2 linked regions of the Homo sapiens genome follow. The protein of the gene in region 1 interacts with the protein of each later gene in a biochemical or structural test. Each region holds a gene or a part of one and is shown in the gene's direction. Other genes may lie near its edges.

The links. Proteins that work in one complex are often made in the same cells at the same time.
Region 2: the proteins of RANGAP1 (region 1) and RANBP2 form a complex in vitro, tested with the Homo sapiens proteins (5 studies listed by BioGRID and IntAct, with this or other methods).

What each region holds. Positions count from the first base shown.
Region 1 is NC_000022.11:41,247,777-41,255,444, reverse strand, and holds part of RANGAP1 (ran GTPase-activating protein 1), read left to right. Parts: intron 1-778; coding exon of another isoform or gene 779-860; exon of another isoform or gene 861-950; coding exon 951-1,137; intron 1,138-2,394; exon of another isoform or gene 2,395-2,453; coding exon 2,454-2,573; intron 2,574-4,335; coding exon 4,336-4,438; intron 4,439-5,627; coding exon 5,628-5,716; intron 5,717-5,993; coding exon 5,994-6,115; intron 6,116-7,668. UniProt on the Homo sapiens protein: GTPase activator for RAN. Converts cytoplasmic GTP-bound RAN to GDP-bound RAN, which is essential for RAN-mediated nuclear import and export. Mediates dissociation of cargo from nuclear export complexes containing XPO1, RAN and RANBP2 after nuclear export.
Region 2 is NC_000002.12:108,722,482-108,729,481, forward strand, and holds part of RANBP2 (E3 SUMO-protein ligase RanBP2), read left to right. Parts: intron 1-6,650; coding exon 6,651-6,718; intron 6,719-7,000. UniProt on the Homo sapiens protein: E3 SUMO-protein ligase which facilitates SUMO1 and SUMO2 conjugation by UBE2I. Involved in transport factor (Ran-GTP, karyopherin)-mediated protein import via the F-G repeat-containing domain which acts as a docking site for substrates.

The sequences.
Region 1 (7,668 bases):
CCTGGAGGTGAAGGTGGGTGGCCGGGGAGTGGCCATCTCCTGGATCCAAGTCCGGTTGGGCCATCAGCATCGGGCTCCCTGTGCCCCTCGCATCTCCAAGTCGGCCTCATTCGTGTGTCAGATACTCAGTCGTGTCTCCTCGGTGCTAGGCCCTGAGCTGAGGCTAGGAACTGGGGACTCCGAGGTGGGCTGAACCTCACAGGTCCCACTGTCCCTGGGAAATGGTCCAGCCTTCCTATGGGGCAAGGACACCCCTACTCTTCTTCCTCCCCCACACCTGTAGCTTCCTGAGGTCATGTGGATGTGGGCGCCCCTGCCCTGGCATCTCAACCTGGGCAGTGTTCCTGCCAAGCCCTGGGCTCTAGGTGTGACAAAGCTGTCTTCGTTTTCTGTCTCTCCATGAAACCTGGGGCTCCTTGAGGACAGGGACAAGATCTGATTTTTTTTTGTTTTTTTTTTTTGTTTTTTTGTGGGGGATGGAGTCTCGCTCTGTTGCCCAGGCTAGAGTGCAGTGGCACAATTTCGGCTCACTGCCAGCTCCGCCTCCAGGGTTCACGCCATTCTCCTGCCTCAGCCTCCTGAGTAGCTGGGACCACAGGCGCCCGCCACCACACCCGGCTAATTTTTTGTATTTTTAGTAGAGACGGGGTTTCACCACGTTAGCCAGGATGGTCTCGATCTCCTGACCTCATGATCCACCCACCTCGGCCTCCCAAAGTGCTGGGATTACAGGCATGAGCCACCGCGCCGGGCCGATCTTATTTTTTTGTGTCCACAGCATGGATTTCCCTGGTGATCCACCTGCCCCTGCCCTGGGAGCAGGTGCTCCCACCCCACCAGGCTCTCTCCCTCCTGGCTGAGGTGAGGTCTCTGGGCTCATGGAGCCAGGCCTTAGAGCCAACCTGGGCTGCTGGGTAGAGAGGATCTGCTTCAGCCAGCTCTTTCTGCAGTGATGACGAGGACGAGGAGGAGGAGGAGGAAGGAGAAGAGGAAGAAGAGGAAGCAGAAGAAGAGGAGGAGGAAGATGAGGAAGAGGAGGAAGAAGAGGAGGAGGAGGAGGAAGAAGAGCCTCAGCAGCGAGGGCAGGGAGAGAAGTCAGCCACGCCCTCACGGAAGATTCTGGACCCTAACACTGGGGTGAGTTTCTATCATCTGCCACAATCAGAGCCCTGGTCCTGAGAACGTGAAATCCCGAGGCACTTTCACAATGGGGTAGGGGGTGTCTCCTTAAGCACAGTAGCCACAAACATTTTTTTTTGATTGCATGATATTGAGTAAAAAAAGGAAAATGGTCCCAGTGTAATGATAGTTACCTATATTTCTTTTTTTTTTTTTTGAGATGGAGTCTCACTCTTGTCACCCAGGCTGGAGTGCAGTGGTGTGATCTCGGCTCACTGCAACCTCTGCCTCCCGGGTTCAAGTGATTCTTATGCCTCAGCCTCCCAAACAGCTGGGATTACAGATGCTTGCCACCACGCCTGGCTAATTTTTGTATCTTTAGTAGAGCCGGGGTTTCGCCATATTGGCCAGGCTGGTCTTGAACTTCTGACCTCAGGTGATCCACCCTCCTCGACCTCCCAAAGTGCTGGGATTACAGGCATTGAGCCACCGGGCCCAGCCATAGTTACCTATATTTCTATTTACCCCAATATAAATGTCTATTTACAGGTAGCAGTGCTGCTGCATTATGTATATTATAAGATATGCATAAGGGTTTCTGAAAGAATAAACAAATAAGCATAAATAGAAATTCTGATTTTTTTTTTCCCCACCCACCAGAGGATTGTCTTGGTGACCCTTAGGAACCACTCCCCCATTCCTGGGATGGTGGCTGGGCCATGACCTGGCTTGGGCACTTGGTGTCCCTTGTCTGGCCCGGGGCTGCATCAGGGCTGCCACACCTCCAGTTCATTCATTTGCATTCCCTGTCAGGTTCCTAAGTAAAGCTCCTGGAGAACTTGGCTCTGGACAAGGACTCCCCATGCTTACGCTGAATTGGGCTGCTTCTCTGGTTTATGGAATCAATTAAACAAATGGCTAGGTTCGCCTCAATTCAGTTTTTCCTCTGGGCACCTCTGGTGCTAGCAGGGCTTACCCAGGCTGGACTGTAGTTCTACGGGGACCCACTTTAGCCCCCATGTGCCTCCGTAGTCATTTCTGGGGCACTGCATGTCATGACGAGGATCCACTTGGCCGTAGCAGGTTTTTTGAGTCCCAGGGAGGTAGCTTCCCCCTCACCCCAAAGGCTCCTGGACCAAGAGCCATCCAGGGCCAGCATCTCTGGGTGATATTGATAGATGGGAAATGCAGCTGAGTGGGAGGAAGAATTCTAGACTTTGAGCCTAGATGGGCTGGAGTGAAGGGTGGATGTGCTGGGTGTGGGGATGGGCACAGCTGTGTCGGGGAGTCTGGGGTCCGGAATTCTCCAGAGCCTCTGTGCCCCTACTTCCCAGGAGCCAGCTCCCGTGCTGTCCTCCCCACCTCCTGCAGACGTCTCCACCTTCCTGGCTTTTCCCTCTCCAGAGAAGCTGCTGCGCCTAGGGCCCAAGAGCTCCGTGCTGATAGCCCAGCAGGTAATAACCACCCCTCGACCCCCACGCTGTACGTGCTGTGGCTTCTGGAGCTGTTAGAGAAAAGGGACGAACAGCTCAGAGACCTGGGGGTGCGACGCTGTCAGCTGGGGGCAGGGAGGCTTGGCCTGCCACTGTTACAACACGCGCAAATGTCCAGGGTATTTATAAGCCTCCAGGGGTTGCAAATGTTCCCTCCCCACTCAGCCTACAGAAAGTACAGCCCGCCAGTTCCCATGCTGACTGGGGTTAGGGAATTTCCTTAAGAGCCTTGCATGTGCCCACCCCCTCCTTGGCTTCTCTCTGCGTGTTCCGTCAGCCCAGCTGCTTCGAGAACAACTCTGTTGCCCAGGGCTCCTTTGGAAGTGACGTGCCTATTGCAGGATGGGTGCCCTCACTCCAGCCTCACTTGTTGGTTGGCTCATTCATTCATTCATAGATGATCTTCGGGGCATCCATTTTCTGCCAGGCACTGCATTTGGGCATGATTTTATTTAACCCTCTTGGCAACATGAAATGTAGACTCTGCTGCCCTTACTTTATTTTATTATTTATTTATTTATTTATTTTTTTGAGATGGAGTCTCACTCTGTCGCCCAGGCTGGAGTGCAGTGGCACGATCTCGGCTCACTGCAGACTCTGCCTCCTGGGTTCAAGCAATTCTCCTGCCTCAGCCTCCCGCGCCCAGCTAATTTTTGTATTTTTTAGTAGAGACGAGGTTTCACCACGTTGGCCAGGCTGGTCTCAAACTCCTGACCTCATGATCCACCCACCTCGGCCTCCCAAAGTGCTAGGGTTACAGGCATGAGCCACCGTGCCCGGCCAGCCCTTATTTTGTAGATAAGAAAGCGGAGGCTCGGAGGTTACAGAGAAATAAAATGGGCCCACTCTCAGAGTTGGCTTAACATTTCGGCCAATTGCTTTGTTAGGTTTTGCCTGTATTCTTTGTTTCTTTTAACATGATAAATCAGATGTTGTAAGCCTTTCTGTGGCCTATCACTTTGGTGTAGCACCATTCATCACTTTCTTGTGCCCATAAAACTCTTCTCAGGATTTTTATTGCAATGTGTGGATGTAGCACTTAAAAGCCAGGCACTGTTTCTGACGTTTTTTCCACTTTTCCCTGTTGTGAGGTTGAGGTAAACGTTTCTGCATGTGAGTATTGTCTACATGCTAGATTATTTCTTCAAGTTCAATTACAAGATGGGGACCACTGGATCCCTGAAATGATTTTTTTTTTTTTTTTTCTGAGACAATGTTTTGCTTTGTGACTCCGGCTGGAGTGCAGTGGTGCAATCATGGCTCAGTGCAACCTCGACCTCCTGGGCTCAAGCAGTCCTCCTGCCTCAGCCTCCCAAGTAGCTGAGACTATAGGCACACACCACCAACCTTGGCTAATTTTTTTCCTTTTTGTTGACATGGGGTCTTGCTATGTTGCCTAGGCTGGTCTCAGACTTTTCGCCTCAAGCCATCCTCCCACCTCAGCCTCCCAAAGTGCTGGGGTTACAGGCATGAGCCGCCACACCCGGCTGGGATGATTTTTCATCCTTGTTCATTCACTCATTCATTCCCTCTCTATGCTGCATATGTGCTTGCTGCAGGCCAAATCCAAGCCAGACTCTGAAGGGACAGCATGGGGTAAGGCAGGACCTGTTCTTGCCCGCCAGGGGCCTTTGTACTGCCCAGGCCTCTCCTAGCTAGCGTCAGAGCCCAGGTACCTCTCCACCACGTGCCACAGGCCAACCATTGTCTCTTTTGTCCTCAGACTGACACGTCTGACCCCGAGAAGGTGGTCTCTGCCTTCCTAAAGGTGTCATCTGTGTTCAAGGACGAAGCTACTGTGAGGATGGCAGTGCAGGATGCAGTAGGTAATGTGGGCTGGGTGAGACCTGGGTGCCCTCTGTCCCTTGATGCTCGTGGGCCCCAGGTATCCTTCGTGGTTGCCGTAACTCGTCAGCCCCAGCGCTCTCATGGGAACTGCTCTTTGGCCACCTGAGTTTTTCCTCCGTCAGGGTCCTGCCGTGGAGCCAGCTGGCTGCTCTTCTCCCTGTTTTTCACCACTGAGAAACTGAGGCCTTTCCCAAATCCACACAGCCATGTACAGTTAGAACCCATAGCCCGCTCTAGGAAGTCCAGATAGTCACATCTGCAAGCCCAATGGACGCAGGTCTATCGGGAGGAGGGATGGTGAGAGCCAAGCCCTTGTCCACACCTTGGAGCTTCTGTGCTCACGTCCACTCTACCTGGAGGTTCCTTGCACAGAGGACACCTTTCCCCATAACATTATGGGGGCTTCCTTGGAGCACCAGCCCATATCCCTCCAGCCCTATCACAACCCTCTCCCCACCCTGTCTGTTTCCTCCATTCCAGCACCTGTCACCTTCCACCCTGTTTCCATGTGCTTGACTGAGCCTCCACATCTAACGAAACCTGAGCCAGTTCCGGTTAGGCAGAGGGGAGGAAGGGCCCTGAGGCGAGGGGGACGGTTCCTGGAAAAGATAGAAAGGGGTGGAAGGACATGTGGTGCCTCTTCCCGGCGTGGCGTCGAAGCGGGGAGGGCGGCTCAGTGGGAAATGAGGCTCGGAAGGAGGTGGGGGCCAGACACAAGCCTGCTCCCTGAGGGCCCGCCTGTGGGCATTTTTGGGAACAAGTTGCCCTAGTTCTGTTTCCCAGGAAGCCTAGCACAGTCCCTGCACATCCCCTCACCCTGCCAAAATAACCTGAATCCTCCCCAGTGGTAGCCTGCCTCAGGAAATCTCCATTCCCACGGTGTGAGGTGGGCACAGTGGGTGTCATCCCCATGCCCATTTTATACCTGAGGCCAGGATGGGCAAGGGCCAGAGTGTCACAGCTGGCAGATGGACTGAGCCCATCCCCTGATGCCAACTGCCACTCCCTCTGGTTCCTGTGTCTCTGCCGTCCCTCTCGTGTTCGCCTCTTCGTCAGGGCGAGGAGGCAGGCGAGCCTGTGTCTGCGCGGTGTTGGGGGAACCCTGGGTGCCTTGGCCCAGCCCTCTGCCATAGCCAGCAGCCTGCCCCTGCTGCTTCTGCCCTACAGATGCCCTGATGCAGAAGGCTTTCAACTCCTCGTCCTTCAACTCCAACACCTTCCTCACCAGGCTGCTCGTGCACATGGGTCTGCTCAAGGTGAGGCCGGAAGGAACAGCAGGCCCGGGAGGGAGGTGGGTGGGGTCTGCACAGAAGCTGCCCCAGCCATGCCCGCCAACCTCCCTCACCTCGAGTCCTGAGCCGGCTCGCCCACGGGGCCCCGAGGCCTGGGTCTGCCCCAGCAGCCTTGGTCTTCACGATGAGATTCCGGCTAGACTCAGTTGTGGGCACTATCAGCAGAGTCTGGATGGTGGAGTCCAGGGGCCCCCCCAGGTGACTTTGAAGCTCACCCCGCTTTTCGCTGTGTTCCTCTCAGAGTGAAGACAAGGTCAAGGCCATTGCCAACCTGTACGGCCCCCTGATGGCGCTGAACCACATGGTGCAGCAGGACTATTTCCCCAAGGCCCTTGCACCCCTGCTGCTGGCGTTCGTGACCAAGTGAGTGTGGCCTTGTCCTTCTGCCGGTGCCTGCCCTCTCGGGCTTCTCTGGCCAGGTCTGAAGGCGCCCGGTTCCGGGAGGCCCAGCCCCAGCCCAGCCAGCCTGCTGGCCCCACTCAGGTGCATGAGAGGCCCTCATGCCTCCTGGGCTCTCAGCATCTGCATTGGAGTCTCACCACCCTTGGGAGGCCCACTCCCCTCTGCCCAGCTGAGGACAGTGGGGCTCAGGGACAGTGAGAGAGGAGACATGCGGCGCCCCCATTGTGCAGATGAGGAGCACTGGGTTGGTTAAGGAGTTTCCCTTGGTCACACGCTAGCAAGAGGCTGGGCCAGTGTCCAGACCCATGTCTGCTGAGCGAGGTGCTGCGGTTGGTGACATCTCCGGAGTGGCTTTTTGTCCACATTCACAGCAGCGCAGGCCAAAGGGGCCTGGTCACACCAGGCTCTGCAGCCCCGGGCCCTCTCCTGGGGACACACATTGCCACGGGAGCTGCCAAATGCCCAGCAATGTGTGAACCTTGGCCTTGTTCTGGAGGGTCCTGGGGTGTCCCGGGGCATTGATGGGGTGATGGGCACAGTCAAGTAAGAGAGGCAAGGCCCCACCAGGGAGGGGTCGGGAGGCTTGCCCTCTGAAGGCCCTGTGTGGCCCCTGGCCAACCTGTGGCCTTCATCAGGCCTCAGTCTCCCCATTTGTCCAACCGGGGGGTTAGGTGAGATTGTCTCCAAGCGCCCTGACCAGCCACACTTCCAGTCAGTCGGCGCCATCCGGGGACATGGGGCAGGCAGAGGAGCAAGGAAGTCCCTTTGCTGGGGGAGCCCAGAGCCCACCAGCTGAGGCAGGATACTTGGTGCATGTGGGGAGGCGGGGCTGGCGGAGCGTGAGCGGCCCCCGCTGGCCTCCAGCACCCAGCTGGTGCCGCGGCAGCCCTGTCCACTCCAGTGTCTGCATGGCGCCGCCTCCTTAGCCAGGCCTTACCTTCTGGCCGCATTTCCCCCACACCAGACCACCCCTTGGGCTGCAGCTGGACTGGCCTTGGTGAATGGCAGATCTCACTGTTCCCCTCCTCTGCCAGGTGCTAGGTAGAGCCTCACTGTGAATCTCATGGCTGGCCACAGCCTCACCCCGACCCCACCCCACCCCACCCCAGCACAGTGTGCTCTCCCTGAGCCCCTTTCCATAGCAGTGCTGTTGCTGCAGTGCCGAGCTTTGCCCATGCTGTCCAGAGCTTGTTTGGCCAGTGGCCCCAGCCCCCGTCTGCGCCTGAGCCCTTTGTGTCCTTCCTGCCCCCTGGTCAGAGTAGTTCCCTCTGTATCCCTGGCAGCCCCTGTGCTATCCTAAGCCTGGGCATGTGCCTCTTGCCCTTGTTGGTCAGAGCAAAATGCCTTTTCCCAGCTTGTTGCCCAACCTCCAGCACAGGCCTCAGTCTGCCCCCTGGGTCTTGTCCAAGGTGACTGATTAACTATGTAGTGACATGCACGGACCCTCTTCCCTCAGCTCCCAGCCAAATGGTCTGGGATGCCCGGCCTGGCGCAGATCCTGGCCTGTTCACTGG
Region 2 (7,000 bases), on another chromosome or scaffold:
GAGGCTGGCCATCTGTGAACTGCCCATGCTTTCTAGAATGTCGGAGTTTTGGAGTGTGATGATGCGTCTGTATATCATATCTTTCTAGTCTTTCATTGTGCTTTCATTTGTTAGTCTTCTCTTGTTTTGCCATTTTTCTACTCCCTCACATGTGCTTTTGCCCTTAAAAATATTCTTCGTCTGTAATCTGAGCACTTTGGGAGGCCGAGAGACCAGCCTGACCAATATGGTGAAAATCCGTCTCTATTAAAAATACAAAAATGAGCCGGGCGTGGTGGCAGCGCCTGTAGTCCCACCTACTCGGTAGGCTGAGACAGGAGAATTGCTTGAACCCTGGAGGCAGAGGTTGTGGTGAGCAGAGATTGCACCACTGCACTCCAGCCTGTGTGACAGAGCGAGACTCTGTCTCCAAAAAAGAAAAAAAGAAAAAAAAATATAATTCTTTCTCTAGTTTTTCTTTTTCCAGATGGCTTCTGTTTAGTTTTTCTATGTTCTGTCAAGTTGATTTCTTATTCTGCAGCTGATTCCTACTTCTCAAAGTCTACTTGACAGCTCTTATTTTTATTTATTTGTTTTTTAGAATAGGGTCTTGCTGTGTTGCCCAGGCTGCCATCAAATTTTTGGGCGTAAATGATCCACCTACCTCTGTTTCCTGAGTACTTAGGACTACAGGCAGGCACCTTTGACAGCTGTTAGTTGTTTTTTCTGCCCTTTACAGCTATACTTCATACTTCTGAGTAACACACATATATACTTTTGTTATTTTTAATTTCCTTTCTCCCATTTTAGACATTTTCTTTTCTTTTTTTTTTTTTTGAGACGGAGACTCGCTCTATCGTCCAGGCTGGAGTGCAGTGGCGCGATCTCGGCTCACTGCAAACTCTGCCTCCCGGGTTCACACCATTCTCCTGCCCCAGCCTGTAGCTGGGACTACAGGCACCCGCCACCACACCCGGCTAATTTTTTAGTATTTTTAGTAGAGACGGGGTTTCACCGTGTTAGCCAGGATAGTCTCGATCTCCTGACCTCATGATCCGCCCGCCTCAGCCTCCCAAAGTGCCGGGGTTACAGGCGTGAGCCACCGCGCCGGGCCCCATTTTAGACATTCTGTACTGGTTATTATGCTCCTCCAAAACTGTCCTCAGACACTTTGGTTTGCCCCTCATTCTTTCAGTACTGTTATTGCAGTTTTTGTTTAAATGAATATTTAACATTTATATAAATATAAGGTAAATATTTTTGCATTTGAATTGCCCTTGTTGTGCGGTTTTGTTTTTCCTGGACTGAATAATTGCTTTATTTTTTGGTTTGCTTGTATGTTGTGTTACTACTTGCTTACTTAAACTCAGCAATTTACACCCTCAAATGTGGTCAAACTGGTCACATAATCCCATCAATTGCAGCTTAAAACATTGATTGATTGATTGATTGATTGATTGTCTGTCTACCTGGAATACCCTTACTAACTGACTTCTCCAACCAGGATTGGTTTTTCTTCCTCTTTGCTACACAGCTGTGCTCTTGGGACTTCCCTTTATCATCAGTTTGAGAATTCCTTTCATCTTTTTTCTGAGTTAGACCCTTTGTTTCTTGTATCTCATGTCCTCTTCATTTACTTTCTTTGTTTTGGTGTAGCATAGTCTCACTTGCTTTGAGGAAAAGTAGATGAGAGGTTTTTTTGTTTGTTTGTTTTTGTTTTGGGACAGAGTCTTGCTCTGTTGCCCAGGCTGGAGTGCAGTGGCATGGTCTCAGCTCACTGCAACTTCCGCCTCCCGGGTTCAAGCGATTCTCCTGCCTCAGCCTCCTGAGTAGTGGGATTACAGGTGTGTGCCACCATGCCCGGCTAATTTTTTCTATTTTTAGTAGAGATGGGATTTCACCATGTTGGTCAGGCTGGTCTTGAAACTAATGGTATGTCTTTAAAATGTCTTTACTTAATTTAGTTGATCATTTGGTTATCGAATTCTGAGTTTGAAATAATTTTTTTTTCGCAATTTTGAAAGCATTGCTCCATTTTCTAGAAGTTCTGTTGTTAGGAGTCCGATGAGATTCTTGTTCTTGGTAACTTAAAGGTTTTCTGGAAGTGTCCTTTCAATTGGGAAACTCATTTCTTTCAGTTCTGTAGCATTTCTTGTATTATTTCTTTGACCATTTCTTACCCTTTTTTTAATGACGTTTACCTGAAAGCTGGAGTTTCTCTAATTTTTCTCTTATTCTCCTCTTTTGTTTGTTCTGCCTTTTGAGAGATTTCCTTACCCTTATGTTCCAGGGGAAGAAGATTGGGGAACTCATGGTTCAGTATCTAGACTTTTCCTCATTGTCCTGTATAATCGCGGCCTTCACCCTTGTTGGGACTCCACAGATTTGGAGCTGATCAGATGGGTTTGTTGAGAACAGCTGATCAGATGGGTTTTTGGAGGATTTTAGGGGGAGGGAGATTCATTTGACTGTGCAAGATGGGCGACAGAGTGAGACTCCATCTGAATTAAAAAAAAAATTTAGAACTGCATAGTGAAAAAGTAGGCCACAAATATTAAGTTTTGGACAATTACAATTACATCTCTATCTTACTGTGCAAGATAGAGATGATGTGGCATCTCTTAGGGTCTTACTGTTCCTGTTTTCAGCCCTGCATCAGTTCTTGATATTTGGCAGCTTAAGTGAATTCAGGTATTTGCTTATAGTGACATCTGCTGTCATGTAAAGAAGTACTGCTTGCATCAGATATTGTCCTGTTTACATAACATGGGCTGTGCTCCTTCCTAGCTGTGTATCTTTAAACAAGGCATTTACCTGCTTGAGCTTCAGTTCCCTTGTAAAGTGAGCAGGTTAGAGGCAAAAGATCATATAGAAGAATAATTTGTAAAGTTGTTTAATTATCTTAAGATTGTCTACTTTAATAACATAGTTGGAAGCAAAGAAGGTAATGGAATTATTTTTCTATTATGTTTTGGCATTGTACCTTGAATCTATTTCTTCATTTTGAAAAGGGGGAACTGGCTGGGCTCAATGGCTGACGCCTGTAATCCCAGCACTTTGGGAGGTGGAGGAAGTCAGATCACAAGGTCAAGAGATCGAGACCATCTTGGCCAACATGGTGAAACCCCATCTCTACTAAAAATACAAAAATTAGCTGGGCATGGTGGCGTGCGCCTGTAGTCCCAGCTTGTACCCGGGAGGCAGAGGTTGCAGTGAGCTGAGATCGAGCCACTGCACTGCAGCCTGGCGACAGAGCAAGACTCCATCTCAAAAAAAAAAAGGAAGGGGGGAACAAGCCTTGTTCCTTTACGTGCTGTCCTGACTGCTGTGTATTATTTTTGTTAAGATTGCTGTAGTTCTTTTTTTTTTTGAGACGGAGGCTTGCTCTGTCGCCAGTGCTGGGATTGCAGGTGTTAGCCTGGCATTGAGCAACGTTTTGTAATTTAAGCATACAAGTCTCTCACCTCCTTGTTTACATTTATTCCCAGGCATTTTTTTCTTTTAGATGCGATTGTAAATGGAATTGCTTTCTTAATTTCCTTTTCTGATTGTTCGTTGCTGGTACAGTAGTCCCTTCTTATCCACAGTATTGCCTTACGTGGTTTTACTTAGCTGTGTCACCCGTGGTCCAAAAATATTGAATGGAAGATTATATAAATAAACATTTCATGAGTTTTAAATTGCAAACGGTTCTGAATAACATGGTAAAAATCTCACGGCCTCCTGCTCCGTCCTACCTAGGACACAAGTCATCCCTTTGTCCGACATATTCATGCTGTATGTGCTCGCCACCCGCTAGTTACATACTAGTCATCTCAGTTATCAGATCAGTTGTTGGAGTATTGCAGTGCTTGTGTTCAAGTAACCTTTATTTTATTTAAAATGGCACCAAAGAGCAAGAGTAGCGATGCTGGCAGTTCACATATGCAGAGAGAAGCCATATAGTGCTTCCTTTAAGTGAAGAGGTGAGTTTTTTTGTTTTTTTTTTTTTTTGGCTTAAACAACAGAAATTTATTTTCTCATGGTTCTGGAGGCTAGAAGCGGCAGATCAGGGTGCTGCTGCTTTGGTTCCTGATGAGGGCTTTCTTCCTGGCTTATAGGTTGGCTGGCATCTTGTCCTCACATGGCAGAGGGAGAGTACTGTAGTCTCACCTTGCTTTTTATTATTATTATTTTTTTAATTTATTTTTTTATTGATAATTCTTGGGTGTTTCTCACAGAGGGGGATTTGGCAGGGTCATGGGACAATAGTGGAGGGAAGGTCAGCAGATAAACAAGTGAACAAAGGTCTCTGGTTTTCCTAGGCAGAGGACCCTGCAGCCTTCCGCAGTGTTTGTGTCCCTGATTACTTGAGATTAGGGAGTGGTGATGACTCTTAACGAGCATGCTGCCTTCAAGCATCTGTTTAACAAAGCACATCTTGCACCGCCCTTAATCCATTTAACCCTGGGTGGACACAGCACATGTTTCAGAGAGCACAGGGTTGGGGGTAAGGTCACAGATCAACAAGATCCCAAGGCAGAAGAATTTTTCTTAGTGCAGAACAAAATGAAAAGTCTCCCATGTCTACTTCTTTCTACACAGACACGGCAACCATCCGATTTCTCAATCTTTTCCCCACCTTTCCCGCCTTTCTATTCCACAAAACCGCCATTGTCATCATGGCCCGTTCTCAATGAGCTGTTGAGTACACCTCCCAGACGGGGTGGTGGCCGGGCAGAGGGGCTCCTCACTTCCCAGTAGGGGCGGCCGGGCAGAGGCGCCCCTCAGAAGAGGTGAGTTTTTGACTTAGGAAAGAAAAAAGATCATATACTGGAGTTGCTAAGATCTATGGTAAGAACAAATCTTTTGTCCATGAAATTGTGAAGAAGGAAAAAGAAATTTGTGCTAGTTTTGTTGTGACACCCCAAACTGCAAAAGTTACAGCCATAGTGTGTGATAAGTGCTTAGTTGAGATGGACAAGACATTAAATTTGTGGGTGGAGGACACAAACAGGAAACATGTTTCGATTGACGGCAACCTGGTTTGATACTATTCATCGTTTTGGACATTCACTGGGGTCTTGGAATTTCAAAAATAAGATGTTTGAGTAGCTGTATACTCTTTATCACATGGATGGAACATACTCTGGTTGTATCAGCATTTTTTTTTTTTTTTTTTTTGAGATGGAATCATTCTGTTGCCCACGCTGGAGTGCAGTGGTGCGATCTTGGCCCACTGCAGCCTCTGCCTCCCGGATTCAAGCGATTCTTTGCCTCAGCCTCCCAAGCAGTGGGGATTACAGGGGTGTGCCACCATGCCCAGCTAATTTTTGTATTTTTAGTAGAAAGGAGGTTTCTGCATGTTGGCCAGGCTGGTCTCGAACTCTTGGCTTCAGGTGATCCGCCCGCCTCGGTCTCCGAAAGTGCTGGGATTACAGGTGTGAGCCACCGCACCCAGCCTGGTGTGCATCAGCATTTTGGACTTTGGAGTTTATGTAACCAAGGAGCCAGGCTGTGGACCTCGTTTATTACTTGAAGAATTCAATATTTATTTCTGCCTTTTTGACTCCTTGACTGTAAAATACTGATCTGATCTGTAGAGAGAACAGTACATGGACCAGGGAATCCTCAGTGCCTTAATAGATCCTAAGTACTTACTTATTCTTTCCCATAGAGGCTTACACATGGTAGGAAAAGAGATTTCTGGAATACCTTTCCTCCCCAAAGAAAGCTGGTTTCTTTTGTTTGTTAAGTGAGAGAGTGGTACCACAGGGTTTCCAAGATTTCCAAGGCTGATGAAAATTCTTCTGTTGTCTGCTTGTCTTACTTTCTTGAATTTATTTTTTGTATGTTATGTATTTATTATTTAGAGAGAGGATCTCCCTGTGTCACCCACGCTGGAGTGCAGTGTCACAGTCATAACTCACGGCAGTGTCAACCTCCTGGGCTCAAGTGATTCTCCTTCCTTGGCCTCCTGAGTAGCTAGGAACACAGGCATGCTCCACTATGCCTGGCTATTTTTTTCTCCCTGGAGACAGGATCTTGTTGTGTTGCACAGGCTGGTTTCAAACTCTTGGCCTCAAAGCTAGCCTCCCACCTTGGTCTCTGAAAGTGCTAGAATTAAAGGTGTGACCAACTGCACCCAGCTTATTTATGATGATGATGATGATGATGATGATGATGATGATGATGATGATGTTTGGGAGATGGAGTCTCGCTCTGTCGCCCAGGCTGGAGTGCAATGGCACGATCTCAGCTCACTGCAACCTCTGGCTCACTGCAACCTCCACCTCCTGGGTTCAACTGATTCTCGTGCCTTAGCCTCCCGAGTAGCTGGGGTTACAGGCACCCACCATCATGCCTGGCTAATTTTTGTATTTTTGTCAAGACGGGGTTTCACCATGTTAGCCAGGCTGGTCTCAAACTCCTGACCTCAGGTGATCCGCCCACTTCGGCCTCCCAAAGTGCTGGGATTACAGGCATGAGCCGCTGCACCCAGCTCTATTTTTTGTTTTGTGATAGGAAATTATAAAACATGGAATTATGCATTTGTCAGCCTTTAAAAAAACTTTTAAGTGAATGAAAGTGGCGTATTTGAACATCAACTTAGGACAGATTTTTACTACTTTTGAAAAAATGTTGGAAAATATTTCTGTATGAAAAGTAAAACAACTTTTAATTTTTTTTAGAAGTCAATGAAAGGATTCTATTTTGCAAAGCTGTATTATGAAGCTAAAGAATATGATCTTGCTAAAAAGTAAGTACAAACTGTAACATGTATTTTTTTTTTAAAATCAATGCCTTTTCTCATTTTCTTCTTTGAAATAGGTAAAAATATGTTCTTAGTAGTTCTTCCTAAGTGTATTCTGGAATAAGGGATTTATCACTCAGACTGATGCTAAGGACCAGCCTAGATTCCATTGAGATTGAAACCGTAATTAGTGTTTTCTGCATGCTGCTGCTTTATACCAAGGGCAAGAAATTGTTTGGCTTCAAATACTTTTTCTAAAAATTGTCTTCTGTTGGAGTAAAAGAGGAC